Linked DNA regions of Homo sapiens: regions 1, 2, 3, 4, 6 and 7 are each linked to region 5. Evidence: fine-mapped expression QTL. A gene starts in region 5. Each other region holds a variant in brackets. All regions are shown on one strand. Distances are from middle to middle. Region 1 overlaps UBE3C (ubiquitin protein ligase E3C). Region 2 overlaps UBE3C (ubiquitin protein ligase E3C). Region 3 overlaps UBE3C (ubiquitin protein ligase E3C). Region 4 has its middle 61 kb from the start of DNAJB6. Region 5 holds the start of UBE3C (ubiquitin protein ligase E3C). Region 6 has its middle 59 kb from the start of MNX1-AS1. Region 7 overlaps UBE3C (ubiquitin protein ligase E3C).

What was found.
Region 1: its variant is fine-mapped to the expression of UBE3C in whole blood (TOPMed, PIP above 0.99).
Region 2: its variant is fine-mapped to the expression of UBE3C in testis (GTEx, PIP 0.96).
Region 3: its variant is fine-mapped to the expression of UBE3C in whole blood (INTERVAL, PIP above 0.99).
Region 4: its variant is fine-mapped to the expression of UBE3C in whole blood (INTERVAL, PIP 0.90).
Region 6: its variant is fine-mapped to the expression of UBE3C in whole blood (INTERVAL, PIP above 0.99).
Region 7: its variant is fine-mapped to the expression of UBE3C in whole blood (TOPMed, PIP above 0.99).

Annotation. Positions count from the first base shown.
Region 1 is chr7:157,217,352-157,221,880 of GRCh38, forward strand. It overlaps UBE3C (ubiquitin protein ligase E3C), which reads left to right. Exons shown (of 23, transcript NM_014671.3): 15 at 3,338-3,425. Among named protein-coding and RNA genes, the nearest start is that of UBE3C, 81 kb to the left of the region's middle. The variant T/C (reference allele first, on the strand shown) is at 1,891.
Region 2 is chr7:157,264,803-157,269,331 of GRCh38, forward strand. It overlaps UBE3C (ubiquitin protein ligase E3C), which reads left to right. Exons shown (of 23, transcript NM_014671.3): 23 at 2,783-4,529. The coding sequence ends at 2,953. Among named protein-coding and RNA genes, the nearest start is that of DNAJB6, 70 kb to the right of the region's middle. The variant A/G (reference allele first, on the strand shown) is at 2,481.
Region 3 is chr7:157,165,170-157,169,698 of GRCh38, forward strand. It overlaps UBE3C (ubiquitin protein ligase E3C), which reads left to right. Exons shown (of 23, transcript NM_014671.3): 3 at 3,879-3,953. Among named protein-coding and RNA genes, the nearest start is that of UBE3C, 29 kb to the left of the region's middle. The variant G/GGTT (reference allele first, on the strand shown) is at 1,772.
Region 4 is chr7:157,273,895-157,278,423 of GRCh38, forward strand. No RefSeq gene overlaps it. Among named protein-coding and RNA genes, the nearest start is that of DNAJB6, 61 kb to the right of the region's middle. The variant G/A (reference allele first, on the strand shown) is at 2,451.
Region 5 is chr7:157,136,719-157,141,247 of GRCh38, forward strand. It overlaps UBE3C (ubiquitin protein ligase E3C), which reads left to right and starts at 2,208. Exons shown (of 23, transcript NM_014671.3): 1 at 2,208-2,620. The coding sequence starts at 2,555. RefSeq lists silencers at 1,700-2,049, 2,330-2,719, 2,770-2,839.
Region 6 is chr7:157,067,385-157,071,913 of GRCh38, forward strand. No RefSeq gene overlaps it. Among named protein-coding and RNA genes, the nearest start is that of MNX1-AS1, 59 kb to the left of the region's middle. The variant A/G (reference allele first, on the strand shown) is at 2,501.
Region 7 is chr7:157,240,518-157,245,046 of GRCh38, forward strand. The region is part of intron 18 of UBE3C (ubiquitin protein ligase E3C); the gene reads left to right. Among named protein-coding and RNA genes, the nearest start is that of DNAJB6, 94 kb to the right of the region's middle. The variant G/A (reference allele first, on the strand shown) is at 2,254.

The sequences.
Region 1 (4,529 bases), 81 kb after region 5:
TGTTTGCCCGTGGTGGTCTCAAACTCCCAGCCTGAAGTGATCTTCCTACCTTGGCCTCCCAAAGTGCTGGGATTACAGACGTAAGCCACCACACCAGTCCTTTATCCTTGATTTTCTAAAAGAACAGAGACAAATTTGAATATTACTAATACCTACATCTAAAGCAGATTCAGTAGTATGATACGTTAGTAAAAAATTTAAGTGGCCAGGCGCGGTGGCTCACGCCTGTAATCCCAGCACTTGGGGAAGCCGACGGGCAGATCACTTAAAGCCAGGAGTTTGAGACCAGCCTGGCCAACATGGCGAAACCCTGTATCTCTATTGAAAATACAAAAATCAGCCGGGCGTGGTGGCAGACGCCTGTAATCCCAGCTACTCGGGAGGCTAAGGCAGGAGAATCACTTGAACCTGGGAGACAGAGGTTGCAGTGAGCTGAGACTGTGCCATTGCACTCCAGCCTGGGTGATAAGAGCGAAATTCCGTCTCAAAAAAAGAAAGAAAAATGAAAGAAAATACAAATATTAGCCGGGCATGGTAAGTGTCCCCCTGTAGTCCCAGCTACTCAGGAGGCTAAGGTATGAGAATCCCTTGTGCCCTGGAGGCGGAGGTTGCAGTGAGCCAAGATCGTGCCACTGCACTGCAGCCTGGGTGACAGAGCGAGATTCTGTCTCCAGAAAAAACAAAAAATATAAGTGATGTTAACAGAGGGACATAAGGTATTTTCAGTTCTTGAGAAAAAGTCGTAACTGGATTCATTTCAGAATCTTGGGAGTAGGAGATGGAGTGGTGGAGGGTATAAAAGAAACCATGTCGGCTGGGCGCGGTGGCTCATGCCTGTAATCCCAGCACTTTGGGAGGCCAAGGCAAGTGGATTGCCTGAGCTTAGGAGTTTGCGACCAGCCTGGGCAACATGGTCAAACCCAGTCTCTACTAAAATAAAAAAATTAGCCAGGCACGGTGGTGTGCGCCTATAGTCCCAGCTACTTGGGACTGAGGCTGAGGCAGGAGAATCGCTTGAACCTGGGATGCGGAGGTTGCAGTAAGCTGAGATCACGCCACTGCACTCCAGCCTGGGCGACAGAGCAAGATTCCGTCTCAAAAAATAAAAAAAAAAAACCATGTCACAGAAATATTCGAGGAGAGAAAACAGGAGTGTTTCAGAACAATTTTATAAGCATGACTATGTCCTCATAAGATATTTGTGAGTTAAGCCTGTTGCATCTAACTCTGCCCACTGACAAGGTAGAGCAATGGTGGCAGATCCCCCAGCAGTGAACAGTTCTGGGGCCCAGGCTGGGGTTGCTTCACAGCAAAAGAAGCAGTCCTGGCAGGGTGCTTGGCTCCAGGTCTGGGGAAGACCCTGCAAGATGGGTGTGGAGTGCTCTGTCATGCTGGAGAGCGAGGAAGCTATTGCAGGGTGGCTGGGGCTGGGAGACAGGGTTAGGAGCCTGTCTCTAGCTGGTCATGGGCAGAAACTTGAAGCATTCATGAAAACAGCTAACTCTGAGTTCGCAAGGGTGCTAACAAAACCCTTCGTCATCATATTTGTAGGATGCAAAGGAACCATCTCATTATTTTGAATGCTGTTTTGAAAAAAAGAAGTACTCAAGCATTTAACCCACCTTTCATTTATAAACTGTACCTCAGGCAAAACAGATAGTGTGTGATCTTTTGCATAGAAGTATTCCAGCCAATACTACATGAAAAGGATTTTTGCAAACTAGAATCAGCCTGTTGCAGGCTCTGGTGAAGGAGATGACCAGGGCGGTGCCACTCCAGGTGCAGCGCATGTCTAGGGTCTGCTGGTCTGAGATGGTGTGTTGGCCTCCCAGGAGAGGAGGGTCTGGTCCCAGAATGCAAATAGCTGCACCTCTTCCTTACTCCAGAAAG[T/C]TGTGCGATGGGAAAATGTCAGCTGAACCCAGCAGTGTGCTTAGTGATTTAATTGATTTATATTTTGGCACAAGTCCCTTATCTCATCACCAGCTGGTAGTACGGTGCACACACCCACACTTGAAGTAGGTTTCACTTCTGCAGTGAAAAGCAGAGATGGGGCCTCTCAGTGATCGAGCATCCCACACCACCTAGGAAACGTTCTCGCCAGAAAGTTAAATCTAAATGTGGTGGAACCTCTACATCTAACTACAAAATTACAGGAAACATAGGGGTTAGAAGTACATCTTTAACAACACCATGAGGGTGCAATTAGCAAAATCTAGATTATGGGAAATTTTACAGGATGAAAGTTTCTTCATTAAAAATTGCAAGGGTGGCTGGGCACGGAGGCTCACATCTGTAATCCCAGCACTTTGGGAGACCGAAGTATGTGGATCACCTGAGGTCAGTTCGAGACCACCCTGGCCAACATGGTGAAACCCCATCTCTGCTAAAAATACAAAAGTTAGCCAGGCATAGTGGCATGTGCCTGTAATCCCAGCTACTTGGGAGCCTGAGGCAGGAGAATCCCTTGAACCTGGGAGGCAGAGGTTGCAGTGAGCCAAGATCAGGCCACTGCACTTTATCCTGGGTAACAGAGTGAATGAGACTCCATCTAAAAAAAAAAAAAAAATTGCAAGGGCCAGCCGGGTGTGGTGGCTCACGCCTGTGACCCGGGCACTTTGGGATGCTGAGGCAGGTGGCTTGCTTAAGCTCAGGAGTTCAAGACCAGTCTGGGCAAGATAGCAAAACCCCATCTCTACAAAAAGTACAAAAATTAACCAGGCGTGATGGTATACACCTGTAGTCCCAGCTACTCAGGAGGCTGAGGTGGGAGGATCGCTTGAAACCAGAAGGTGGAGGTCGCAGTGGGCTGAGGTCGCACCACTGCATTCCAGCCTGGGTGACAGAGTGAGACCGTGTATCAAAAAATAAAAAATTGTAAGGACCAAAAATAAGGGATGAGAGGAACTGACAGATGAAAAATAACTTGAGAAAATATACTGTGTCTGTTTTATTTGAATACTGCCTCAACCAAATTGAAAAAAAAACTAGAAAGTGAATTTTTGATAATAATAACTTAATTTTTAAAGTGATCTATTTTGCTTCATAAAGCAATTATATTATTTTACTATGTTTAGATATTATGCACCATCAAATAAAACAATTAGAGATTTCTTTGGGGCATATTAGAAAACATAGTTAACTGTAAAAGTATGAAAGGACAGCTAGCATGAGAGAGGACCTGAAAAGGTAAAGCAAAAGGGGACATGAAGGTATGAGGTCAGAGAGAGGGCCCAGCCCACGGTAGAGAAATGTCCAGCACCAATTCTGTTCAAGTGTGATCAGGTCAAAGTGTGTGCTAGAGCACAGGGGAGTTCTGAACCAGGATTGCCCCCGACAGGTCACTCAGCTCTATGTGCCAGCATCCAGACATGTGTGGAGGTTCCGGCGGATGGGGAGGATAGGCCCGCTGCAGTCCACCCTGGACGGTGAGTTCTCTAGGACACAGGGTTACTGAGGTATGAATTACATGCTGTCAAATTCACTCCTTTAATCTACAGATCTGTTATTTTTCATAAACTTATACAGCCATGTCACTCCCAGCAGGAGCTACCATGTAGAAAAGTTTCATCACCCACAAAATTGCCTCTAGCTCCATTGCGGCCACCTCTTCAGCAGCCACCCATTTCTGTTTTGTCCTGTCACTTTGCCTTTTGCAAAAGGCCTCCAAAGGGAACCATGCTGTGTAGTCTGCTCCTGGCTCCTTTTGGTCAGCACGCTGCATTTGAGGGTGCTGTGTGGGTTGATTGTTCCCTCTGTTGCTCAGCAGTATTCCAGTGTGGGGATGCACCACAGTTTGTGAATCCATTCATTGGTTGAAAGACATTTGGTTATTTTTTCTGTCTCTGGGAATACGAGTACAGCTGCTATAAACATCTATGTACAGGTTTTTCTGTGAACATACATTTTGTTTGACATGGAGTAAGTTTCACTGGGAGTAAGAATCCTGAGACATTTGGCAAGTTTATGTTTAACTTGATGAGAAGCTGCAGAACTGTGTTCCAGGGTGGCTGCACGGCTTTGCATTCAGACCAGCAATGAATGAGAGCCTCTGTTGTTCCCAGTCCTCATCAGCACTTACAGTTGTCATTTAAAAAAAAAAAATTCTATGGGCCAGGCGTGGTGGCTCTCGCCTGTAATCCCCAGCACTTTAGGAGGCCGAGGTGGGCGGATCATCAGGTCAGGAGTTCAAGACCAGCCTGACCAACATAGTGAAACCCCGTCTCTACTAAAAATACAAAAAACTAGCTGAGCGTAGTGGCGGGCACCTGTAATCTCAGCTACTTGGGAGGCTGAGGCAGGAGAATCGCTTGAACCCAGGAGGTGGAGGTTGCAGTGAACCAAGATCACACCACTGCACTCCAGCCTGGGTGACAGTATAAGACTGTCTAAAAAAAAAAAATTTGGCCATTGTAAAAGGTGGGAAATGGTATCTTCTTGTGGTTTTAATTTGTGTCTACCAGCCGACTAATGATATTCAGCATCTTTTTCATGAATTTGTTTTTTTGTTGTGTTTTCTTGGTTGTTTTTTG
Region 2 (4,529 bases), 130 kb after region 5:
CTCAGGTGATCCACCCGTTGTGGCCTCCCAAAATGCTGGGATTACAGTCATGAGCCACTGCTCCTGGTCACGTAATTTTTAAATATAATTTTAGCTGTATCTTGTGTTCAGTTTTCTAGGCTACCTTTTTCACTCAACATTACATCAGGATCATTTTTCCTCATGTTATTCTTTGAGATATTTTTAATGGGCTTGTAGTGTCCCATCATGTGATTTACCAGTTTACTTTCTGTTTTTTAGTTGTTTACAGCTCTTCCTTCGTTGTGATGCTGTGAACCTCTTGTGCATAAATTATCATGTGCATCTCTAATTATTTCTTAGAGTACAGTCCCAGGAGTTGTGAATGTGGGTGAAGCCCCTGCTCCTGCTGCCAGGCCCACCTCTCAGAGAGTTTCGTGTACACGTGTGCAGGGAAGGGCTGACCTAGCTAGGTCTCTGAAACCCGTGCCAGATACTAAATCTGCACAGGCTGCGACAGTGAGCAGACTGAGGGCGATCTGTGCCTTATTGTCTTCCTGTTGGAAGAGAACACATAAATCACGTATCTCAAATGTGAGGCAAATAGCTAATGGTGTTTGTGTATACGAGGAAGGTGGAGTCACCGGTTCTTCGTGGCCATCAGAGGACCGACACGCCCATAGGTCTCATGCATTAAGTCTGCGTTGAGCAATCCCTAACACGGTTTTTGCCTACAGATACATTTGCACAACTGTGAAAACCAGGTACGTATTCATTGCATCATTTTTTGTAAAAAGCTGAGAGAAGTGCCCAGCAACACGTCGTGCCGCGCGTGTGCATGGAACACCATATAGCCTCACCATTAATAGGCAAGATGAGCGAGACCCATTATCAGATGAGAAAAGCACGGCACGGAATACTGTGTCCAATGTGCTCACCGTCTCAATTTTAAACCTAAAGGAGGGAGAACATTTTCTCATGCGTGCATTTCATCTCTGGGAGCACTTAAGACGCTGAAGCGTTGGTTGCCAGTGGGAATGGGAACTGGGTATCTGTGATACAGGGATGAGAATTTTCACACTGTACCTTTAAATACCAGAACGTCATGAACACATCTGAAAAACAATATTCAAATTTCCCTGATCATCTTTCTTTTTTGTTAACAATTATTTAAATTCTGGCACAAGCAAGCCACTTTTCATCATGCATTTGGTCTATAGATGTTCTACCTCCCTCAATTTCGTCTTGTAATTTAATGAATAGGGGAACTGGGGCCGGGCACGGTGGCTCACGCCTGTAATCCCAGCACTTTGGGAGGCTGAGGCGGGTGGATCACGAGGTCAGGAGATCGAGATCATCCTGGCTAACATGGTGAAACCCCGTCTCTACTAAAAATACAAAAAATTAGCCGGGCGTGGTGGCGGGAGCCTGTAGTCCAAGCTATGCGGGAGGCTGAGGCAGGAGAATGGCGTGAACCCGGGAGGCGGATGTTGCAGTAAGCCGAGATTGCACCACTGCACTCCAGCCTGGGTGACAGAGCAAGACTCCGTCTCAAAAAAATAAATAAATAAAAATAATAGGGTAACTGGGTTGCTTCTTTGTATCTCTTGAAAACTGATAGAGGTCTCATCAGATTCTAAATTTGAATTTTTCTTTTTTTGGCAATAACATCACATAGGTAATGTCGTATGCTTCCCATTCCCTTAATCATCGTGGAGATCCACTTCTCGTGAGTCATCTCCCCACAATGCTGGGATCGATCTCTGCGTCAGAATTCCTCTTGATTTTAGTGGTCACTTATCACTGCCTAGATCCATTGTTTAATGTGCTTCTAAAACAGCCGTGTTCTAATTACATAATTGTATAATTTATTAGCTGGAATTTTCTATTTAAAAACAGCTTTGTTTCTTCTCACCAATGATTTGGTTAACCCGAGTAATAGCTTGTACAGGAAAGATAGAATAAATCTTGATCCTTTTTAAAAAATTTTTATAGACAGGGTCTCACTGTGTGTTGCCCAGGCTGGAGTGCAGTGGTGTGATCATACCTCACTAACCTCGACCTCCTGGGCTCAAGACATCTTTTCACCTCAGCCTCCCAAGTAGCTGGGAGTATAGGGGCAGACCACCACACCTGGCTAATTGTTTTGATTTTTATTTTTAGTGGAAATGAGGTCTCGTTATGTTGCCCAGGCTGGTCTCGAACTCCTAAGCTCAAGCCATCCCCCAGCTAGGCCTCCCAAAGTGCTGGGACTACAGGTGTGAGCTATGCGCCTGGCCTGGAATGTTATTTATCCCTTTTTATGCCTGAAGCACAGTGCATAATCTTTTATGTAAGTTAGAACTAAGCCATCAATGTAATTTTTTAAAAAAGCAAATGTGGGCCAGGCACGGTGGCTCACGCCTGTAATCCCAGCACTTTGGGAGGCAGAGGTGGGCAGATCACAAAGTCAGGAGTTCAAGACCATCCTGGCCAACGTGGTGAAACCCCTTATCTAGGAAAAATCCAAAAATTAGCCAGGC[A/G]TGGTGGCAGGCACCTGTAATCCCAGCTACTTGGGAGACTGAGGCAGGAGAATCGCTTGAACCTGGGAGGCAGAGGTTGCAGTGAGCTGAGATGGCGCCATTGCCCTCCAGCCTGGGCGACAGAGCTAGACTCCATCTCAAAGAAAACAAACAACAACAACAAAGCAAATGTGGTTTCGGGAAAATGTGACTGCAATGGTAACTTTACTGATTGGAGCAGGCACATTTTGTGTACTTTGTATTAAAACTCATGTAATGCCATGCTTGTTACAGTGACATCTTGCACACATGCTGTTTTTCAGGAGTTGTATCCCGCATTTTGTATTCACAACGGAGGCTCCGACCTTGAGCGGCTCCCCACAGCCAGCACCTGCATGAACCTGCTGAAGCTCCCCGAGTTCTATGACGAGACACTTTTGCGAAGTAAACTTCTCTATGCGATTGAATGTGCCGCTGGCTTTGAGCTGAGCTGAAGCTGATGCTGGGGTCAGACCCCTACAGAGAACCAGTGCTTCCTTCGTCAGCAGCGCCTCCCCAGACCCACGAGGATACTCACACTGCACGCCTGAGGCTCTCCTAAGCTCCTTCTTTCATTCTGCCATTCCTCCCTCCCTTCCTTTTTTAAATGATTTTTATTACGGTGTGGTCACTTATTTAGATGGACATTGCTTTTCAAATAACTTAAAATAACACGTTATGTGCCATGTGGCTACTTTAGTAATATTGCCAAGAAGAGCACAGTTTTTACACTAGTGGCATCTCAGTGAAATTAACCAAAGATGAAGCTTTGGCTTTGCTGGTGAGATCAGAGCCCTCCTGAGCAGGCAGCGCCACTCCAGGGTTCAGACAGGGCTGCACAGGCGGCAGAGATACAGGGTCTGAGGGCTGAGACGCCATGGGGCCGCTGCTGCTTATGTGGTTGGATTGTTTACAAGCCTCATTATTAAAACTGAAGGCATTTTTTTTTTCTGCTGCCTTTCCCAAAGTGGTTAGGTTTGGAAAAGAGATGATGATGGTAATATTTTATTTGTGCTTTTTAAGCCATTTCCCCAAATGGGACTAGCATGCTTGTTTTCAGTATACCGTGGCCTGCCTCATGATGGTTTGGAGATACTGTCTGTGGATGTGAGGTGGGGACTTCATTCATTGTCCTATTTCTATCTCCACTTTGTGCCTGGAGAGCTTTCAGGGGAGGTGGAGGAGGAGGGTCTGCCAAGCTACTGCAACATCTGTCACCCACTATACCCAGTTACTTGGGGGAGGACAGACACTGTGGTGTCATTAAAGTTGTTTGAACCAAAGTGGCGGCTGCATCTTTGTCCCGATGCTAGCCGTGCCGGTCTCCCATCATCCGCTCGCCCTCCTTTCCCCTGGGCTGCGCCCACTTGTCTTCCTGGATATTTGGGGGTGACTCGCCATGCTTGGCACCCTCTGCTTCCTGGTGCTGCTCTGACTCGAAGACGGGACAGTCCCTGGTGCACATCCAGGGAAGAGGAGTGTCGGTAGTTCTTGCAGTAGGCACTTTATCAGGACCTGACCTGTTGCTGGGTGATTTTAGTCTCTACAAACAGAAAGCGTTTCAAAGCGTCAGCTGTGGGAGCAGAGTGACCCTTTGCTGATGCTGGGGGGAGGGGATCTAAATCCTCATTTATCTCTTCTATGTCTCGTATTTTACTGTCACTGGAGGCTCTGTGGGCTGTCATAGTTAATTGACCATAATTAGCAATATACTTTTAAAGTGGGAAAGCTGAATGACACTTTTAAGACAATGAACATTATCAAAACAAAATGTATAATTTCTTAATTTGAATAATAAATTAAGCGTTTAAATGCTATTTGTAGTCTTGATATACAGAAATAAAATAATTAGGGTTGGTCTTTTTTATTTTAGGTTGTTTTATGTTGAATGTTCTATATCTTATTAGTTAATTTGTATATTTTATTAGTATTTTGGAAATAGCATATCTGAGACTGAAGAGAAATTGACAATTCACTTATTTGTGGTTTTTTTCTCAGCTATTCTGAGCTTATTTATTTATTTGTATGTTC
Region 3 (4,529 bases), 28 kb after region 5:
TTTATGGAAAATTCTCGGCCATTATCTCTTCCATTAGTGCTTTTGCTTCATTCTTCTCCTCCTCTCCTACTTGGACGCAAACTGTAAATGTTTTTGACCTTTGCGTCGTTTCCCATATTTCCCTCATGTGCTTTTCTCTGTGTTTATCCTTTTGAATATCTCTGCTTCAGTTTGGATATTTTCACCTGACCTAATTTCTGATTTACAGCTGATCTCTTTAGCATTGACTTTTTTTTTTTTTTTTTTGAGGTGGAGTCTCACTTTGTCAACCGGGCTGGACTGCAGTGGCACGATCTCAGCTCACTGCAACCTCCGCCTTCCAGGTTCAAGCGATTCTCCTGCCTCAGCCTCCCGAGTAGCTGGGACTACAGGTGCACGCCACCGCACCCAGCTAATTTTTTGTATTTTTAGTAGAGATGGGGTTTTGCCATGTTGGGCAGGCTAGTCTTGAACTCCTAACCTCAAGTGATCTGCCTGTCTCAGCTTCCCAAAGTGCTGGGATTACAGGCGTGAGCCACCCTGCTGCCTAATTGTTAAATACATCCATTGACTTCGTAATTTCAGTTTTTGTTATTTCAGTTCTAGAATTTTCTTTCATTCTTTTATATAGTCTTTAGTTCTCTTTTAATTTCTTGAACATAATTATAGATTTTTTAAGACAATGTTTAAACTCCAGTAATTGGATCTTCCGTGGGGTTTGTTTCTATTGTTTGTCTTCTTGATTTTTAATCTGATGGGGTTTCCTTTATAGGTGACTAGCTGCTTTTCTTTTGATGCTTTTAGAATTCAGTCTTTATCTTTGACTTTAGATAGTCTGATTATTTGCTTGGAGATCGTTGAGTCTGCTGTATGTAGGTGTCTAAATCTCTTGTGAGACAGGAAGTTTTCATCTATTATTTCATTAAATAGGTTTCCTAATCCTTTCTTTGACTCTTTGACCTTGGTGTTACCAATACTTTGAATATTTTATTGCTTTATGTTATCCCAAATGTCATGAATGCTTTGCTCATTCTTTTTTCTGTATTTTTGTCTGGCTGGATTATTTCAAAAGACCTGTCTTCAAGTTCTGAGATGCTTTCTTTTGCCTGATTAGTCTGTCTTGAAGCTTTCAAATGTATTTTGTATTTCTTTAAATGAATTCTTCACTTCCAGAATTTCTAGTTGATTCTTTTTAAAAATACTTACTCTTTGGTAAGTTGCTCACTTATATCCTGAATTATTTTTCTGACTTCTTTGTATTTTTCAGAATTCCCTTGTATCTCACTGAGCTTTAAAATCAATATTTTGAGGGCTGGGCGCGATGGCTCACGCCTGTATTCTCAGCACTTTGGGAGGCCGAGGCAGGCCGATCACCTGAGGTTGGGAGTTCGAGACCAGCCTGACCAACATGAAGAAACCCCATCTCTACTAAAAATACAAAATTACCCAGGCATGCTGGCGCATGCCTGTAATCCCAGCTCCTCGGGAGCCTGAGGCAGGAGAATTGCTTGAACTCGGGAGGCGGAGGTTGTGGTGAGCTGAGATCACGCTGTTGCACTCCAGCCTGGAGTGAAACTCCGTCTCAAAAAAAAAAAAAAAAATCAATATTTTGAATTATTTGAGATTTTCAAAATTTCTATTTGATTAAAATCTATTGTTGGAGAATTATTGTATTCCTTTGGAGATGTCGTATTTCCTTGTTTTTTCATGTTTCCAGCATCCTTACATTGCCATGTGCATCTGGTGAAAGTCGCTTTTTCCTGTTGGTGGTGGTGGTGGTGGTGGTGGTGGT[G/GGTT]GTTTTTGAGACAAAGTCTTGCTCTGTCACCCAGGCTGGAGTGCAGTGACATGATCTCAGCTCACTGCAACCTCCACCTCCTGGCTTCAAGTGATTCTCCTGCCTCAGCCTCCCAAGTAGCTGGGATTACAGGCGTGCACCACCATGCCCAGCTAATTTTTTGTATTTTTAGTAGAGATGGAGTTTCACCATGTTGGCCAGGCTGGTCTGGGACTCCTGACCTCAAGTGATCTGCCCACCTCAGCCTCCCACAGTGCTGGGTTTACAGGCATGAGCCACCATGCCCGACCTCACAGGATTTTTTTATAACCATTTCAAGCCCAGGAACTACATCTACATGACCTGATGGTGTTCTTGAATCCCACAGTGTGTGTGTTAGTCTCAGCTTTGTAGATGGCATTCATAGAAGACATGAAACAAGGTAGTATGGTGAGATGGAGTACAGGCTTTATTATCATACCTGAGTTTGAATTCTGCTTTACATCTTTGGGTGTTGCTTAATTTTTATAGCAGTCTCAGTTTCTGCATCTTTAAACTGGAAGTGATGCTCACCTGTAAGATGACTGTGCATTTGTATATAAAATGCCTCTCTCTCTCTCTTTTCTTTTTTTTTTTGAGACGGAGTCTCACTCTGTCACCCAGGCTGGAATGCAGTGGCGCGATCTCGGCTCACTGCAAGCTCCACCTCCCGGGTTCACGCCATTCTCCTGCCTCTGCCTCCTGGTAGCTGGGACTATAGGCACCCGCCACCATGCCCGGCTAATTTTTTGTATTTTTAGAAGAGGTATGGTTTCACCATTTTAACCAGGATGGTCTCGATCTCCTGACCTTGTGATCCTCCTGCCTCGGCCTCCCAAAGTGCTGGGATTACAGGCATGAGCCACCATGCCTGGCCTAAAGTGCCTCTCATAGGGCTGGCACATAGTAGTAGGCTGTCCAACAGCAGTAGCACTGGTCATAACAATGATGAAGAACGCATATTTTTGCCAGGTCGCTGAACATTTTAAAGATACTCTCAAGTCAATGAAAATTGGAATTTTCTCTTGAAACAAGAAAGTGACCTTTAAAATAGATGCTGGTGTTGTCTGCTTGTATTCCTTTAATATTTAAAACTTTAAAAAGTCCTGCTAGCCGGGCACGGTGGCTCATGCCTGTAATCTCAGCATTTTGGGAGGCCAGGGCTGGAGGATCATGAGGTCAGGAGATCGAGACCATCCTGGCTAACATGGTGAAACCCCGTCTCTACTAAATATACAAAAAATTAGCCAGGTGTGGTGGCGGGTACCTGTAGTCCCAGCTACTCGGGAGGCTGAGGCAGGAGAATGGTGTGAACCCAGGAGGCGGAGCTTGCAGTGAGCTGAGATCAAGTGGGCGACAGAGCAAGACTCTGTCTCAAAAAAAAAAAAAAAAAGGTCCTACTATGCTGGTGAGATTGTAAAATGGTATTGCCATTTTGGAAAACAGTGTGGCAATTCCTCAATGATAACTCTACTTCTAGGTTTATGCTCAAGAGAAATGAAAACCTGTATCCACAACAAAACTTATATATGAATGTTCATAGCAGCCTTAATTCATAATAGACCAAAGTGGGAGCAGCCCAGATGTCCATCAGTAGATGAATGGAGGAATTCAACGTGGTCCATCCATACAATGGAACATTACTCTTACTTAGCCTTAAAAAGGAATGAAGTTCTCACATATGCTGTAACATAGGTGGATCTTGAAAACATCATGCTAAGTGAAGAAAACCAGACACAGCATATTGTATGATTCCATTATATGAAGTGTCCAGAATAAGCACATCCATAAGATAGAAGTAGATGAGTGATTGCCAGGGGCAAGAGAAGGGACGGCAGGAAACGGGGGGTGACTGCGAATGGAGACGGGGCTTCTGGTTGTGGTGATGAAGGTATTCTAAGATCAGTGGTGATGGTTGCATAGCTCTTAATATATTAAATGCATATTTAGTGGGTGTTACCTTTTAAAGAATGAATTTTATGGTATGTGAATTACATAGCTGTTAGTGTTTTTAAAGTCTTTACTAGCAAAATGTCATTTTCACTGGATTCTGACCAATTGCTCCCTCACTCCTCCTTTTATTGTTTAGGAAGAAAGGCGAAGGTTGAAAAATGCAATAATTATCCAGTCATTTATTCGAGGCTATAGAGACAGAAAACAGCAAGTAAGTTTGTTTTAAAATGAGGAGATTAGTAGGGCATGGGAGAGCTTATTTTAAATATGGTATCTTTGTACACCTTGTTAATTGAAGTCAATGCTGACAGTAGTATTCTTCCCAATAAATAATTTTATTTGTTCTAATTATTGTGAAGATTTATAGATAGGTGAGTTTTTAGGTAATTTTTAAATAATAAAATACAAACATGGGCCTCACCACAGTTGAAAATCAAAATAGAAGGAAGTCATGAGAGATCCTTTTTTTTTTTTTTTAAATTGAGACTGAGTCTCACTCTGTTGCCCAGGCCAGAGTGCAGTGGCATGATCTCGGCTCACTGCAACCTCTACCTCCTGGGTTCAAGCAATTCTACTGCCTCAGCCTCCCGAGTAGCTGGGATTACAGGCATGTGCCACCACGTGCAGCTGATTTTTGTATTGTTAGTAGAGTCGGTGTTTTGCCACGTTGACCAGGCTGGTCTGGAACTCATGACCTCAAATGATTCGCCTGCCTTGGCCTCCCAAAGTGCTGGGATTACAAGCATAAGCCACTGCGCCTGGCCTGTTTTTGTTTTGTTTTTTGTTT
Region 4 (4,529 bases), 140 kb after region 5:
TTTAAGAGAAATGTTAAAGTTTTTGAGATGGAGTTTCCCTCTTGTTGCCCAGGCTGGAGTGCGGTGGTGCAATCTTGGATCACTGCAACCTCTGCTTCCTGGGTTCAAGCAATTCTCCTGCCTCAGCCTCCCACATAGCTGGGATTACAGGCACCCGCCACCACGCCCAGCTAATTTTGTATTTTTAATAGAGACAGGATTTTGCCATGTTGGCCAGGGTGGTCCCAAACTCCTGACCTCAGGCGATCCGCCCACCTTGGCCTCCCGAAGTGCTGGGATTACAGGCGTGAGCCACTGTGCCCAGCAGAAATGTTAAAGTTTAACATCCCATTGCCTTAGTTCCTCAAATGTTACACACACAGCAGCAAGCCAGCAGTTTCTACTAGGTTTACAGTAGAGAAGGGAAACCTGGCCAGGCACCCGAGCTCATGTCTGTAATCCCAGCACTTTGGGAGGCCAAGGCAGGTGGATCGCTTGAGGCCAGGAGTTTGAGACCAGCCTGGGCAACATGGCAAAACCCCATCTCTACAAAAAATAAAAAGGTTAGCAGGGCATGGTTGGTGCACGCCTGTGGTCTCAGCTACTCTGGAGGCAGAGGCAGGAGGATCGCTTGAACCCAGGAGGTCGAGGCTGCAGTGAGCTATGAATGGCACCACTGCACTCCAACCGGCCACAGTGTGAAACTCTGTCTCAAAGAAAAGTGAAAACCTTTGTCCACACACAGACTTGTACACAAATGTTCATAGCTGCCTTATTCACGATCGCCAAAGGATGGAAACACACAAGTGTTCATCAGCTGAGGAAGGAATAAACATTATGTGGTCCCTCTGTGCAGTGGAATAGGACTTGGTCGTAAAAAGAAGTGTGGGCCAGGCGCGGTGGCTCACGCCTGTAATCCCAGCACTTTTGGAGGCCGAGGCGGGCAGATCACGAGGTCAGGAGATCAAGACCATCCTGGCTAACACGGTGAAACCCCGTCTCTACTAAAAATACAAAAACAATTAGCCGGGCGTGGTGGCGGGCGCCTGTAGCCCCAGCTACTCAGGAGGCTGAGGCAGGAGAATGGTGTGAACCCAGGAGGCGGAGCTTGCAGTGAACCGAGATTGCGCCACTGCACTCGAGCCTGGGCGACAGATTGAGACTCTGTCTCAAAAATAATAATAATAGTAAGTAAAAGGAAGTGTGATACACAGCAGCATGGGTGCGCCTCAGGGACGTTAGATACAAAAGGACACATGCTGGGTGACTCCTTGACCTGAAGTGTCCAGCACAGGCACATCCCCAGAGGCGGGGTGCAGACTGGTGCTTGTTAGGGCTTAGGAGGGAAGAGACGGGCACTGACAGCTGATGGGTACAGGGCTTCTTTGGGGGCTGACGAGAATGTTCTGGAATTGGTGGTGGTGGCTGCACAATCTTGTGAATATACTTAGAAATAGGAAACTGTACACAGCTGGCCCTTGCGTAACACGGTCTGAGCTGTGCAGGTCCACCAAAGCGTGGGTGGGTTTCTTTTTTTTTCTTTTTCTTTTTTTTTTTTTTTTTTTTTTTGAGATGGAGTCCCAGCCTCCCGAGTAGCTGGGACTGCAGGCGCCCACCACCACGCCTGGCTAATTTTTTTGTATTTTTAGTAGAGACGGGGTTTCACCGTGTTAGCCAGGATGGTCTCGATCTCCTGACCTTGTGATCCACCCGTCTCGGCCTCCCAAAGTGCTGGGATTACAGGCGGGAGCCACCGCGCCCGGCTACATGGGTGGTTTTCCATGAAAGCTGCCCTCTATTGAGAGGCCAGCCTCTCACCTCGCCTTCCGCCTGCCCTTCCTCCTCTAGCCCACTTTATTGTAAGAATACAGCATATGATACGTAACATAGAAACCATGTGCTAACCACTGTTGATGTCACCAGTTGGTTAGGCTTCTGGTCACCAGCAGGCCGAGTTACATTTTTGGGGAACACTGCCTAGTTCAGAGGAAAGACTGGAGTTGGAAATTCTGTCAAACCCATTTGAAGAAGCTTGGAATTTTCTAATTTGGGGGTGTATTTACCTTATTTCATTCTTACCTTTGCTGAGGCTTCCAGTTCAGAAAGAATGGGCCTGGGGCGGTCTTTATCTTCCCCCAGGACCCCCAGTCGAAGGATCCCTTCCTTTGAGGTGGGGCCCACATGGATCTGCAGGGGCCTCCCCTCCCTGCAGCACCCTCGCCCCCCTCCCCTACTCAGGGGCCCCTGGGACCAGAGACCTCAGCCCTAGGGACACCCTGGTGGGCCTGTGCTGCCACCGAGGCCCCTCTCCTCTCTCCGGGGCTGACCGCGGTGGCCGTAGGGGCCTTGCCAGGGTCTGCAGATTCAGGGGGCAGTTTCCTGTTCTGCAGCAGAAGGCGTCCTTGCACAGTCCCCGTGCAGCAATGATGTGTGTGTGAGCACAGGCCCTGGCCACTGCGGGGCAGGCAGAG[G/A]GAGCCGGTTCTCCACCTGCCCAGCTGGGACCCCAGTGTGGGACCTGTTTCCTGATCCGCCGCATCTGGGGCTGTCACCTGCAGCTCAGACTGTGGTGCCCGCGGCCAGGTAAGGTTCACACATTATGTTCACATCCAGACCCCACAGATGTGAGGGGCCCCAGCAGATGTTCTGCACCAAGTAAGGGATGAACAGACAGGCCCAGGTCCAAGGCCTCCTGCCCCCTCTCTATTGCCCCCGCCTGGTCTTGCTGAGGCTCCTAAATGGGGTGACAAGGGCAAGGCCAGGACTCCCAGCCACCCTTACCACCCTGTGCCCTGACACCCAGCCAGCTCCTCACCTAAGACCCATCCAACATCTTGGACTATCATTCAAGGAGGAAAGACACCTTGATCCATCTTCAGAGTCCCAACATTACTAAGACAGCCACCTAAGACACCATGAAAGGAAGGCTGGTCACAACAAGGACTGATGAGGCAGGAAGTGCCTGATAAATTCACTCAGAATGTGGTCATTGCTTCCTGGATACAATGAAGTCAACACTGAAAACTCACAGGAGAGAAGTCCCCCTGGAGGGAGCCTCCCCTGTCTACTGGGGGGACTGTTTCGCTGTAGCAGTGTGGGGCCATCCACTCCCTGCTTCAGGGCTATCCCCCGTCTACTGGGGGGACCATTTGTCTAACGGGGCAGCATCACCCACTGCAGGAATCACCCCTGTCTACTGGGGAGACCGTCCCCCGTTCAGTCTGGGGCCTCAGCCTCTGAGGCAAGCAGGGGAGAACCGGGCAGAGTCTGTTGACTTCGGATGGTCCTAATGGCCTCAGTTTCTGAGCAACTCCTTTCTGCGTCTCCCCACACCGGCGCTCCCGTTCCTCCAGCCAGGCTCCCGTGTGTCCTCCTGGTGCCTGTCCTTCCCCCGGGTGTGGGCTCCTTCGCAGGCGCTGCCCACCCCCCACCTCCTGCAGCCACTCATGGCCGGCTCTGGGCCCTGGATCCCCGGAAGGCACACACATTGAGGAAGAGGCTGTGTCTCCTCTCCCCTCCCCTTGCCGGGCTGCTGGGGGCAGTCCTTGGCCGGCTGCCCATCTGTGCCATCGTCTGCACAGAATGGAAAGTGAGCGTCTGTCATGCTCAGTAATTCCATGTCTGTTGAATCTAATATCAAAAGATCTGGGCATCTGTGCTGTGTGTCTGAGTTTTTTCATTTCATTTTCTAGTGATGAGTGTTGAGTGCAGGTTGCCACATACAGAGCAGCGAGACCGCTGGACTTTCGCTCTGCCCAGTGCTTGGTGGCCCCCCAAGGAATGTGTTAAGTGACCTCCTTTATTTTTATTTTGTTTTATTTTTTGACACAGGGTCTCCCTCTGTCGCCCAGTCTGGAGTGCAGTGGTGCGATCTGGGCTCACTGCAACCTCCATCTCCTGGACTCAAGCGATGTTCCTGTCTCCGCCCCCCGAATAGCTGGGATGACAGGTGCGTGTCACCGTGCCCAGCTAATTTTTGCATTTTTTGTAGAGACGGGGTTTCACCATGTTGCCCAGGCTGGTCTTGAACTCCTGACCTCAAGTGATCTGCCCGCCTTGGCCTCCCAAAGTGTTGGGATGACAGGTGTGAGCCACCATACTGAGCCGAAGTGACTTCTTTTCAAGGAGGTTTCTAGGGGCCTGGAATTGCTTTTCACAGGGGGATGGGGACTTGATTTACTCCTGAAAGGGTGAGGGGCGATGGTGTCCCCCTCCCCAGGTCACCCCTTGAGCTGCCATGGGCTTCCAGTGTGCAGGAGCCTTTGGGGACAGGAGACAAGGACAAAACACTTGCCTTAGGGGACCCTTGAATGAGGGCTGTCACTGGCTTAGGTCACCTGGGGAAGCTGCTTACCCTCAGGTGGGTGCCTGGAGTCTCATTCAGGGAAGGGCAGAGCCTAGGGTGGGGGCGCACCCTCAGACAGTGCAAGGGATCTGCAGGGATGTCAGAGGCTCTGTCCCAGACAGACAGGCCCACAGGTGGGCACCACACCAGGGCCACCACCCTAGCCCCACAGCCAGGCCACCCCCAGATGGGCAGCCTGGGCCCATCT
Region 5 (4,529 bases):
GAGAGAAAGATACTGATGAGCTCACTTATACGTGGAATCCAACAGTCAAATCCTATCTAGAAACAGAGAGTAGAGTGGTGCTTCCTGGGGCTGGGAAAAATGGGGAGAGATATGTAAAAGGAAACACACTCGCAGTTATGTAGCATAAATATGCCCACAGATCTAATGTTCACAGGAGGACTGTTTATTATTATTGTTATTAATTTTTATTTTTATTTATTTATTTTGAGACGGAGTCTCCCTCTGTTCCCCAGGCTGGAGTGCAGTGGCGCGAGTGGCGCGATCTCGGCTCACTGCAAGCTCCGCCTCCCGGGTTCACGCCATTCTCCTGCCTCAGCCTCCCAAGTAGCTGGGACTACAGGCGCCTGCCACTATGCCTGGCTAATTTTTTTGGTATTTTTAGTAGAGACGGGGTTTCACTGTGTTAGCCAGGATGGTCTCGATCTCCTGACCTCGTGATCTGCCCGCCTCGGCCTCCCAAAGTGCTGGGATTACAGGCGTGAGCCACCGCGCCCGGCCTGTTTATTTTTATTTTTTGAGACAGAGTCTCACTCTGTCACCCAGGCTGGAGTACAGTGGCACGATCTCAGCTCATTGCAACCTCCGCCTCGCAGACACAAGCGAGTCTCTTGTCTCAGCCTCCCAAGCAGCTAGAAGTTTAAGAACTTTAAGTGGGGGACCACCTATACATAAACATGCCACCATGCTCAGCTAATTTTTGTACTTTTAGTAGAGACGGGGTTTCCCCATGTTGGCGAGGCTGGTCTCAAACTCCTGACCTGAGGTGATCCACCCACCTTAGCCTCCCAAAGTGCTGGGATTACAGGCGGCGCCAGGACTGTATTTCTTTTTTTTTTTTTTTTTTTGAGACGGAGTCTCTGTGTCGCCCAGGCCGGAGTGCAATAACACGATCTCAGCTCACTGCAACCTCTGCCTCCTGGGTTCAAGCAATTCTCCTGCCTTAGCCTCCAGAGTAGCTTGGACTACAGGCGTGCACCACCACACCGGCCTAAGTTTTGTATTTTATTAGAGATGGGGTTTCACCATGTTGGCCAGGCTGGTCTCGAACTTTTCACTTCAGGTGATCCGCCCGCCTTGGCCTCCCAGAGTGCTGGGATTACCGGCGTGAGCGACCGTGCTCGGCCGCAGGACGACTGTAGATGATATCGTATTGTGTGTTGAAATTTTGCTAAGAGAGTAGATTTTATGTACTCTTACCACACACACACAAAGAGGGTAGTCATTTCACAATGTCTCTATGAAATCATCATGTTGCACACCTTGTATACAACCAAAAATCAATTTTTAGAAATTGGTTTCAATCGTGTATGATATATATGTATATGCACATGTATATGAGATATTATGTATACGTATGTGTGGATATAAGACACATGTTTATGTATAGGTGGTCCCCAACTTAAAATGGCTCAACTTACAATTTTTTGACTTTGTGATGGGTTTATTGTAGCATTAAATACATTTTCAACTTACAATATTTTCATCTTACGATGGGTTTATCAGGACAAAGCCCCATGGTAAGTCCAGGAGCAAATATTTTTGCATACACAGGTATGTGTACATGATACATATTTATATGTATTGATGCTGTATCTATAGATGCATATGTGTGCTATGTATGAGGCAAATCTGCGCATGTCTGTGTACATGGTAAATATTTACGTCCGTCTGTGCGTGTCATAGACATAGAACAGGTGGGATGTAAACAGACGGGCTGGGCCTAGCTGCTCCTTTCCCGCCTCACTCGAGTCTGGCACCAGATTGGCCGCTCCCAGCCCGCTCCGGGTGCCGGCCCCTGCACCCCACCCTGCACCCCGCACCCTGCCCTGCACCCCATCCCGGCCCGTGCCTCGCACTCCACCTTTCCCGCACCCTGCCCCGCACCCAACACCTCCCGCGCCCCTCGCCGCGCTCCCCCAGCACGCACCAGGCCCCGCCCACTCCGCCGCGTGCCCAGCCCGCGTCACCGCCGTCCTCCCCAGGCTCCAGCGCGCCTTGCGGGGCCGCGCACGCTAGCGGAACCGCCGGGAAGAGCGCCGTGCCGTCAATGGCGGAGGCGCGCACGTCTGCAGGGCCGCGCACGTCTGCAGGGCCGCGCACGTCTGCAGGGCCGCGCACGTCTGCAGGGCCGCGCACGTCTGCAGGGCCGCGCACGTCTGCAGGGCCGCGCACGTCTGCAGGGCCGCGCACGCACTGACGGCTGACCGCCATCTTCCCTCCCGAGGCGGCAGTTCCAGGTGCAAGCGCCGGGTTTGCTGCCCGCTGGGCGCCCCTGCAGCGGCCCGAGCTGTGGCCGGCGTGGATGAGGGGCAGGCGAGGCAGGGCCGCCCCTCCAGTATTGCCGCCCCTCCCGCCCCAGGGCAGGGCTGGGAGGGTACAGCCCGGGGGCGGGCTCGGGTCGCCTCCCGGCCGCCGCGTCCTCGCTGCCCCGGGCCGGGCGGGCGGGCGCCGAGAGCCTCCCAGCCCGCCCCGTGCCCCGCCCGCCCGGCTGCTTCCGCGGCGGCGCTGCCCGCACATGGGCTAGGCTGCCAGGATGTTCAGCTTCGAAGGCGACTTCAAGACGCGGCCCAAGGTGTCCCTTGGCGGCGCGAGCAGGAAGGTGAGGGCCGGGCTGGCGGGGCGCCCTCGGCTCGGGGCCTGCGCGGCCGGGGCTCGGGGCTGGGACTCGGGGCTGGACTCGGGGCTGGACTCGGGGCCGAGACTTGGGGCTGGATTCGGGGCCTCCCTGGCGGGGACTCGGGGCTTCCTCGCCGGATCTCGGGGCCGCTCCGGCCGGGACTCGGGGTTGGACTCGGAGCCGAGACTTGGGGCCAGGACTCTGGCTGGGGCTTAGGACTGGACTCGGGGCCTCCCTGGCTGGAACTCGAGGCCGCGCCCGTGGGGGCCTTGCCTGTCCACTGCGCTTCGGGACCCGGGCGCGCTGGCCGTGGCTCCCTTCCATGCAGGAGGCCGGTGAACCCTGGCACGCTTTGTGCCACCCAAGGTGAACTTACCCTTTCTGGGTGTTTCCTTTCAGAAATGCGCTTTCCATGCTCGCTCCCGCATGGCATCAGGGAGTGGCTGCTTTTCGAATGCCACCTGAAGGGCGTTTTCGGTTGTAGAAGGTGAACGGCACGCATTTGCTGATGTCGATAATCTCTAAAGTAGAGGCAGAACGTCTCATGAATAGCCACGTGTTTGAATCCAAGACGAGGGCAATTATTTGCCACCAGCCTCCTGGAAACTGTGGAGAGACTCCGGACTTACATCTGTTGTGATCGACATTAAGTTGTTCGCATGGTAATTGTTTAGGATAAGGGTAGGCAAACCATGACGCCTCTGTTCTAGTCTAGAATTTCTAGCTGTCTGTCCCTGAAGACGGGCATCAGTTGGTTCACTGGAACCGCTAAGTCGTTGAACACTGTGTGGTCTTGTTCCCGCCCCTCCCTTCCCACCCCTTCCCATCATTTCTGAAATGTTCTTTAAAATGCTTCACCTAGTTTTTCTTGTCTATCAGTATATTCTGTATATCACAACCACCAGGTAGGCACATAACGCAGAGTGGGTGCTGGCAGGCCAAGGAGGAACTGCTGTTATTAAGATTGTGCTGTGGGGCTGTGTTTGGTGGTTTCTGAGGTTAGAAGGGAACCTGGGTAAAGAGTTGGGAGAGAAGTGTGCTGATAATTTTTCAGCTTTGAGGTTCGTGTGATGGTGATTGCTTGGAAGTCACTTGTGCTCCAGAACTAAGTACTGTGCAGTTAAGGGTGGTCGTGGTAGCACTTAGGGTCTTCCACGTTAATGAAAATGTTTTATGAGATCAAAGGATTTCTACAGTTAGGAGAGACTTCAGAGAATCTCAGGGCCAAATCGCCTTGCTTACAAGTTCGGAAGGTGAGCTGCAGAACATTTGAAGGAGTGCCCATTCACACAGCAAGCTAGTGGCAGACCATCTGAGACTCCATGCCATTTACACAGCGCCGCGCGGCCTCTGTTGCAGGCAGGAACACCCCACGGGCCACGGATGTTGGTCCCTTTTCACCAAGGAGTGCATCTCTGCTCTGAGGGAGTGAGATTTCTTAACTGTTGATCAGAATCTCAAGGGAAGATAGCACGAGCTGTGTAAAAGAATCACCCCTTTAAAAACAAAACTCTTTTTATTGAGGTATAACTTAAGATACAGTCAGGTTCACAAACACTAAAGAGATCCTTGTGCAAGTGAAATTGAGGAGGAAGGGCGAGAGGGAAGCTGGGTAGGGAAGGAAAAGGCGTCTCAGCTGGAGGCTAGCGTTAACCCCATCTCACCAGGAGCATGCTACAATTGGCCCTAATTGCGGCAGAGGGGTTGGTGGCTGCAGGCTGCTGCCCCTCCGGGATGAGGGTGGGAGTGTGGCACTGCTAACCCTGAGCCGAGGGCCATTCTTCTGGGAGAGAGTGGCAGTAAAGAGCCCTTAGTAGGAACTGGCAGCAGCTGGGGCATGGGTGCCCTGGCCTGGTTAAGGAATCTGGGTGGGGAGCCAGCTGTATGTACA
Region 6 (4,529 bases), 69 kb before region 5:
GATCATTTGGTTTTTGTCCTTCATTCAGTTAACATGATGTATCACATTTGTTGATGAGGCAAACCATCCTTTCATTCCTGGGATAAATTCCACTCAATCATAATATAATCTTTGTGTTTGGTTTGCTAGTATTTTGTTGAAAATTTTTGTACCTATGTTTGTCAGGGATATTGGCCCATAGTTTTCTTTTTTGAGGGTGTGTCCTTGTGTGGTTTTGGTATCAGGATAATGCTAGCTTCGTAGAGGTAGTCAGGAATAATTTCCTCCTCTTCAATTTTTTGGAGTAGTTTGAGAAATTGGTGTTAGTTCTTCCAGAAAAGTTTGATATGCTGGTGTGATGGCTCATGCCTGTAATCCCAACAGTTTGGGAGGCCGAAATGAGAGGATTACTTAAGGTCAGGAGTTCAAGACCAACCTGGGAAACACAGGGAGGCCCTGTCTCTAAAAAAAAATCATTTTTTTTTTTTTGAGATGGAGTTTTGCTCTTGTTGCCCAGGCTGGAGTGCAATGGCGCGATCTCTGCTTACTGCAACCTCTGTCTCCCAAGTTCAAGTGATTCTCCTGCCTCAGCCTCCTGAGTAGCTGGGATTACAGGCGCCCGCCACCACACCTGGCTAATTTTGTATTTTTAGTAGAGATGGGGTTTCTCCATGTTGGTCAGGCTGGTCTCAAACTCCTGACCTCAGGTGATCCACCCGCTTCAGCCTCCCAAAGTACTGGGATTACAGGCGTGAGCCACCATGCCTGGCTACAAAAAAATAATTTAAAAAAATTAGCTGGATGTGGTGGTGCACTCCTGTAGTTCCAGCTACTTGGGAAGCTAAGGTGGGAGGAATGCTTGGACCCAGGGGTTTGAGGCTTCAGTGAGCTATGATCATGCCATTGCACTCCAGCCTGAATAACAGAGAGAGTCCCTGTCTCCCAGAAAAAAAAAAAAAAAATTGGTAGAATTCAGCAGCGAAGCCACCCAGTCCCGGGCTTTTTGTTGTTGTCGTCATTGGGAGGCTTTTCAATACTGATTCAATCATGATACTCATTATTTATCTGTTCAGGCTTTCTGTTGCTTCCTGGTTCAATCTTGGTAGGTTGTATGTGTCCAGGAGTTTATCCCTTTCCTCTAGGTTTTCCCATTTGTTGGCATATAGTTATTCATAATAGTCTCTAATAATTCTTAGCATTTCTGTAATATCAGTTGTAATATCTCCTTTTTTGTTTCTGATTTTGTTTGTCTTCTCTTTTTTCTTAGTTTGTCTAGCTAATAGCTTGTCAATTTTGTTTATCTTTTCAAAAAGCCAACTTTTCATTTCATTGATATTTTGTATTTTTGTCTCTATTTTGTTTAGTTCTATTCTGATCTTTTTTTTGGAAACAGAGTCTCACTCTGTTGCCCAGGCTGGAGTGCAATGGCACTATCTCAGCTCACTGCAACCTCCGCCTCAGTCTCCCATGTAGCTGGGAGTACAGGCATCCACCACCATGCCCAGCTAATTTTTGTATTTTTAGTAGAGACAGGGTTTTTCTATGTTGCCTAGGCTGGTCTTGAACTCCTCACCTTCAGGTGATCCACCCACCTTGGCCTCCCAAAGTGCTTGGATTATAGGCGTGAGCCACCATGCCCAGCCTATTCTGATCTTAATTATTTCTTTCCTTCTACTAATTTGGGGTTTCATTTGTTCTTGTTTTTCTAGTTCCTTAAGGTGAATTGCTAGGTTGTTTATTTGAAACCTTTCTCCATTTTTGATGTAGGCATTTATTGCTATAAACTTCCCTCTTAGTATTGCTTTTTCTGTATCCCGTACATATTTGGTATGCTGTGTATCTATCTTCATTGTTTTAAGGAATTTTTAAATTTTCTTCTTAATTTCATCATAGATGCATTGGTCATTGAGGAGCAGGTTATTTAATTTCCATATATTTGTATCATTTCCAAAAATCCTTTTGTTACTGATTTCTAGTTGTATTCCATTGTGTCTGAAAAGATACTTGATACAGTTTTGATTTTTAAAAATTTGTTGAGACTTGTTTTGTGGCCTATCATATAATCTATCCTGGAGAATGTCCCATGTGCTGATTAGAAGAATGTGTATTCTGCAGCTATTGGATGAAATGTTCTGTAAATGTCTGTTAGATCCATTTGGTCTAAATGGGTTTAACTCTGATGTTTCTTTGATGACTTTCTGTCTACACAATCTGACCAATGGTGATAGTAGGGTGTTAAAATCCCCAACTATTATTATATTGGGGTCTATTTCTTCCTTTAGCGCTAATAATATTGGCTTTATATATCTGGGTGCCCTGGTGTTAGGTGTAAATATATATTTATAACTGTTATATCCTTTTACTGAATTAATCCCTTTATCATTGTATAATGACCTTCCTTGTCTCTTTTTACATTTTTTACTTAAAGACTATTTTTTCCAAAATAAGTGTAGCTATTCATGCTAGCTTTTAGTTTTTGTGTGCATGGAATATATTTTTTCATCCTTCACCTTCAGTCCAT[A/G]TGTGTCTTTACAGGTGAAATGAGTTTCTTGTAGGCAGCTATAGTTGAATCTTATTTTTCTATCCGTCACCCAATCTATATCTTTTACTTGGGGGATTTAAATTGTTTATATTTAAAGTTGTTATTGATAGATGAGGACTTACTCCTGTCATTTTGTCAACTGTTTCCTGGTTGTTTTGTATACTTTTCTTCCTTTTTTCCTCTCTTATTGGTTATCTTTGCAATTTGATGTTTTTCTGTAGTGAAATTATTTGATTCTTTTATCTTTCTCACGTGTGTATCTGCTTTACTTGTGAGTTTTATATGTTTTCATGATGGTAGGTATTTTCCTTGTGTTTCCAGATGTAGGACTCTCTTAAGCATTTATTGTAGGATCAGTCTAGTGGTGATGAATTCCCTCAGCTTTTGCTTATCTGGGGAAGACTTTCTCTTTCGTTTTTGAAAGTTAAGATTTGTGACCGGGCGCGATGGCTCACGCCTGTAATCCCAGCACTTCGTGAGGCCGAGGCGGGTGGATCATGAGGTCAGGAGATCGAGACCATCCTGGCTAACACGGTGAAACCCCATCTCTACTAAAAATCCAAAAAATTAGCTGAGCGTGGTGGTGGGCGCCTGTAGTCCCAGCTACTCGGGAGGCTGAGGCAGGAGAATGGCGTGAACCCAGGAGGCAGCACTTGCAATGAGCCAAGATTGCACCACAGCACTCCAGCCTGGGCAATAGAGTGAGACTCCATCTCAAAAAAAAAAAAAAAAAAAAAAAAAAGTTAAGATTTGTTAGGTATAGTATTCTTAACTGATAATTTTGATAATTGTCATTGAAATTGACATATTAATCTGTCAGTATTTATTTATTTATTTATTTATTTATTTATTTATTTATTTGAGATGGAGTCTCACTCTGTTGCCCAAGCTGGAGTGCAGTGGCACGATCTCGGCTCACTGCAACCTCCACCTCCCAGGCTCAAGCAATTCTCTGGCCTCAGCCTCCCTAGTAGCTGGGACTACAGGCACATGCCACCACGCTCAGCTAATTTTTTGTATTTTTGGTAGAGTTGGTGTTTCACCATGGTGGCCAGGCTGATCTCGAATTCCTGACCTCGGGTGATCTGCCCTCCTCAGCCTCCTAAAGTGCTGGGATTATAGGCATGAGGCACTGCACCCAAGCTGTCAATATATATTAAAAATATATACTCAGCACTTTGAATAAATCATCCCATTCTTACCTGGCCTGTAAGGCTGCTACTGAGAAATCTGCTGTTAGTCTGATGGAGGTTTCCTTATATCTGACTTAATGCATTTTTCCTTGCATTGTCTTTTCTCTGTCTTTGACTTTTGACAGTTAGATAATAGTGAGGCTTGGAGAAGGCATTTTTGGGTTGAACCTGTATAGAAAATTTTGAATTTCCTGTATAGGAAATTTTGAATTTCCTGTATTTGGATGTCCATACCTCTCCTATGATTTTGGAGATTTTCAGTTATTATTTAATTTGTTTTTCCTATCTCTTCTCCTGTGGAACTCCCATAATGGAAACACTTTTTCACTTAATGGTGTCCCGTATGTCCTGTAGGTTTTTTTCATTCTTTTTTCTTATCTAACTGGATTATTTCAAAAGATCTGTCTTGAAGTTCAGAAGTTATTTCTTCTTGATCTAGTCTATTGCTGAAGCCCTCAATTGTATTTTTTCTTTCAGTGCCAGGAGTTCCATTTCATTCCTTTTCATGATAACTTTTTGTTAAATTTCTCATTCAAATTATGAATTCTTTTCCTGCTTCTGTTGAATCATCCGTGTTCTGTTAAATCTTGCTGAGTTTCCTTAAGATGATTGTTTTGAATTCCTTTCCAGGCATTTTATAGATTTCTTTTTCTTTGAAGTCAGTTACTAGAGGATTATTGTGTTCCTTTGAAGATATTCTGTTTCCTTGCTTTTTCAGGTTTCTTGTGTCCCTATGTTGATATCTGCACATCTGGTGGAACAGCCACTTCTTCCAACTTTAATGGAGTAGCTTTTGTAAGGAAAGATTTTTCCTG
Region 7 (4,529 bases), 100 kb after region 5:
TCTACACCCGTAAACGGCTGTGTGGGTCTGACTAGGATGTAGAGTCAGATTTAACCAGGGGTGGGGTTTTTTGCCAAGTGACTATAATAAAGGGTGAATTGGTTGCAAGTTCAGAGTGGTTACAAGAGCCTGCCTTTGAATCTAGGCTGTTTAGAGAGGAAATTAATCCGTGAATGGAGATTTGAGGGCAAGGGAAGCTGGACAGGAGAGGAGACCTGTGGAGTCGAGGTCCTTCAGGGAGTCAGTGTAGCGGTGGTTAGAGCTAAGATCAGAGGGGCTTAGTTACCGGTAATGCCACTTGGAGGACAGAGCTGAAGGAACTGGTAGCTAAGGTGGAGTTGAGGGACAGCCAGGATGGTAGAATGACAGTCAACTGTGTGCTACAGATGTCACCAAAAATTATCACCAGAGTGTGTTGGACTCTCAGGAGCTAAAATCTTGAATTAAGGGGCAGTGACTGAACCCGGGAGAGGTAATGGATGCGCAAGCCCAGTGCATGAGATTGAAAGCCAGGGATTTTAGCGGGAGGGAAGGGAAGGATGGTCTGGAAGTGGCAGTAAGGAGCACAGGGGGCCTACCTCCCTTCTGTGCCCGGTGGTTCAAGGGTGCAAAAGAGACCACAGCTACTCACGCAGAGTGCTCTGAGGATCACAGAGCGCTGCAGGGCATGTGGGAAAATGGACTGCTGAGTGTCGCAGCATAGTCAGGAAAAAATCCCGTCTTAGCTGTGAGACCAGGAGCACAAAAAACAAAAGGAAAAATGAACTGGACTTAAAAATGTTTATGCTTCAAAAGACACCATCAAGAAACTGAAAATACAACACACTGAAAGAGAAGATACTTGTGGCATATATATGAAGGACTCCATGATAAAAATGGGCGAAGGATCCAATTGGACATCTCTCCAGGGACTGGCAGCAAGCAAATGGGCCATTGGTTCGTGCAAAGATGGCCAGCATCACTAGTCATCAAGGAAGGGCAAAGCATAGCCACAGGCTGCCGCGCACACCCGCGAGTACGGCGGGAATCAAACCAGGAACCGCAGGGTTGGTGAGGATGTGGAGGAATCAGTCCTCATGCATTGCCAATGGGAAGATAAAATGGTGCAGCCACTTTGGAAAAGTTTAGCAGTTCCTCAAAAGGTTAATTACCTTTGGACCCAGCAAACATATTTACCCAAAAACTTGCACACAAATTCTCACAACAGCATTATTCCTAATAGCTAAAAGATGGAAATGACTCAAAGGCCCATCAGCTGACAAACGGGTAAACAGAATACGGTTCATCCATACAGTGGACTATTACTGGGCCGTAAAAAGGGGTAAAGCACTGACACATGGCACACATGGATGTGCCTTGAGAATGTTCTGCCCGGTGAGAGCAGATGCAGAGATCACCAAAGACATGGTTCCATTTATATGAAATGTCCAAAACAGGAAAATCTAGAGACAGAAGGTGGGTGAGTGATCGCCAGGGCTGGGAGGAACCAGGAGTGGCAGCTGAGGGATGTGGAGTTTCTTTTTAGAATAATGAAAATCTTCAGAAATTGATTGTGGCGATGGTCATACAACTTTACGAATATAATAAAACCTTTGAATGTAAGTTATGTGGGTGATATCCCAGTAAAGCTGTTACAAAGGAATCGTGCGGTAGGTAACGTGGTGACTGAGAGAGCCAGTGTCACAGAAGTTAGAGAAAGCAGCAGTCAGTATCAATCGGAGTTCATGGATGCTTTCGTTCTAAAGCTGGAAGGAGTATAGTGATTAGAGCATGAGCTGTTGTTAGGGAAACATAGTACCTGATGGTAACGAAATCTGTTATCATCGAAGGCATCATTGTCCTCAAATTTCTCAAGAGGTGGCTCGACAGATTTCTAGTCTGATATTTTATTCTCCTATATGGCAAAAGTAGAATTTTGAAACTTGAAAGATGTTTTCTTCTAATTGTTGAAAATAGTTCTTGGTTATGTGGGGTACCTTGAGACTGAGCCTGAGTTGTTTTTTTTTTTTTTTTTTTTTTTAAATTCCTACTGTCTTTCAGAAGCAGGAGTGTAAAACTGTCCTCAGATGCTCAGATGTTTGCTTCTTGTCAGTGGAAGTGGGAATATGGGTTTGCTACTTTAGCGAACTTCCTTGTTCATGAAGATGTTTTTTATCTTCTAGAAATATTTTGGTGAGCAGGGTCAGGGGTTTCTGTGTTTTGGAGCCTGAACCTGGAAGCCATAGAACTAGAAGTCGAGGAAAAAAAGGAAGG[G/A]TCGAGCCAGGTCTGGTGGCTCAAGCCTGTAATCCCAGCACTTTGGGAGGCCAAGGCGGGAGAATCACGAGGTCAGGAGTTCTAGACCAGCCTGACCAACATGGTGAAACCCCGTCTCTACTCAAAATACAAAAATAAGCTGGGCGTGGTGGTGGTTGCCTCTAATTCCAGCTACTTGGGAGGCTGAGGTAGGAAAATCGCTTGAAACCGGAAGGCAGAGATTATGGTGAGCCAAGATTGTGCCACTGCTCTCCAGCCTGGGTGAAAGAGGGAAACTCCATCTCAAAAAAAAAAGGAAGCGTCAACTCCAAGCTGCTCAAAATGTATCATATTGTGGCTCGATCGCTGGAAGCCACTATGAGGAAAATAGGACAGGAGATGTGCACGTGTCCTCCACGGTCCCCATCCCCCATCCTCTGTGCCCTGCAGGGCTTCCGAAGTGAAAGCCGAGTTGGAGATGAGAAGGGCAATCTCTGCAGGCTTTCCTTGTCTTTATGGAGTGCCAGGGTCTCAAGGAAGAAAAGGTACGAGCACTGTGAGGCCTCGGCAGCTCTGCATGCTGGGGATTTGGGCAGCCTCTGTAGAGAAGTAAGAGTGCAGCACCCGTGTCCTGGTGTGGTGGTTCAGGATTTGCAAGGCAGAGTTGCTCTTTTTCTCTGAGTAACAGCTAGTGGGCTCTGCTCAGTTATCCGTGGTAGACATCTGCTGAATGAGGAGTGAGTTCACCTCAGCTCACGTTTAGAGATTGGCTTTAGGGCACCTGCCAGTGGAGTATTAGAGTGAGGCCCACGGCCTGGCCCCTCCCAGGGAGCTTGGTGTCCTCCTGCTGCTGTTCCTGCATGTGAGGCGCAGGGGACACTGGGACAACACGGATTTTTTAGTGCCAGGGTAGCTGTGTAGACCAAGTGTTGCGGGAGTTGATGGTGTAGAAAGCTCTCTGGAATAGGATTGTGAAGATCTAGGACTTGAAATGGGTGTTGACGTATACATAACCTGAAACCCACAATCCGAAAACTCTTAACACAAGAATGAAAGGGTTTTTTTGCAAACAGATTCATGAATGCAGAATTCCAGTATGTAATGTGGTCCCTGACATATAGTTGGCACTTAATAAATGTTTGTTACATGAATGGGCACCATATGTTGTATTTGGACTCTTGCATTAAAGATGAGGTATGTTGCCAGGCGCGGTGGCTCACACCTGTAATCCCAGCACTTTGGGAGGCCGAGGCGGGTGATCACCTGAGGTCAGGAGTTCAAGACAATCCTGGCCAACGTGGGGAAACCCTGTCTCTACTAAAAATACAAAAATTTGCTGGGCATGGTATGCGCACTTGTAATCCCAGCTGCTCGCGAGGCTGAGGCAGGAGAATCGCTTGAACCCAGGAGGCGGAGGTTGCAGTGAGCTGAGATCGTGCCATTCATTGCGCTCCAGCCTGGGCGATAGAGTGAAACTCCGTCTCGAAAAAAAAGAAAGAAAGATGAGGTATATCTCCTGCCCCCTAGGAGTTTAGAGTTAGTTACACAAGCCCCTAGTGGTCCCAGTGACTGAAGGGACTTTGTTTTTCAATTCCAACTTACTAATTCTGAAGCACAATTATTAAATAGCGTGTTGCTATTAGTATACATTCTTATTTTATGTTTCTTTTTTGTTTTTTAAATTATATGGTTAATATGATATGAAATAATTAAAATTATCTGCTTGCTCAGTTAGGATGGCTTTAAAGCAAGACATCATCTCTTATATAGTTTTTAGATTAAGTTATAAATGTTCACTTTAGAGCTGCCTGAAGATTGATAGAGATGCATTTGAAAAGCATTATTTTTTTATTGATTCTTAATGTAGTAAATTACTGAAGTTATTTGGCGGCAAACAGAAATGGTCTGTGATGTGGTTCACATTTATTCTGATAGAGCCACAATTTGCATTAATTGCGTCGCGACTGCACTCACTTATATTAAAAGGCTTCTACTATAATTAATCCTTTTTATTTCAAATCATTTTGGCACAATTTCTAGCTATAAACATTCATAAAAGACAGACAGTTGAAAAATTCGTTACAGGTCTTTTCCATATACCTATTGCTATTTTTTTCATGACAAGTAGTTATTGATATGCTTCTAGGAACAAGCGTGGTACAGCTGGCTGAGAAGGCCAGTGTGAAAAATGCTAAGTGGATTATTTTGCATAAAAAATAGGCAGTTTTTGAAGTTGTATAATTAACCTGTGTTTAGAAAATACCTTGATTTATGCTTACATTTGTATCTCAGTTGCA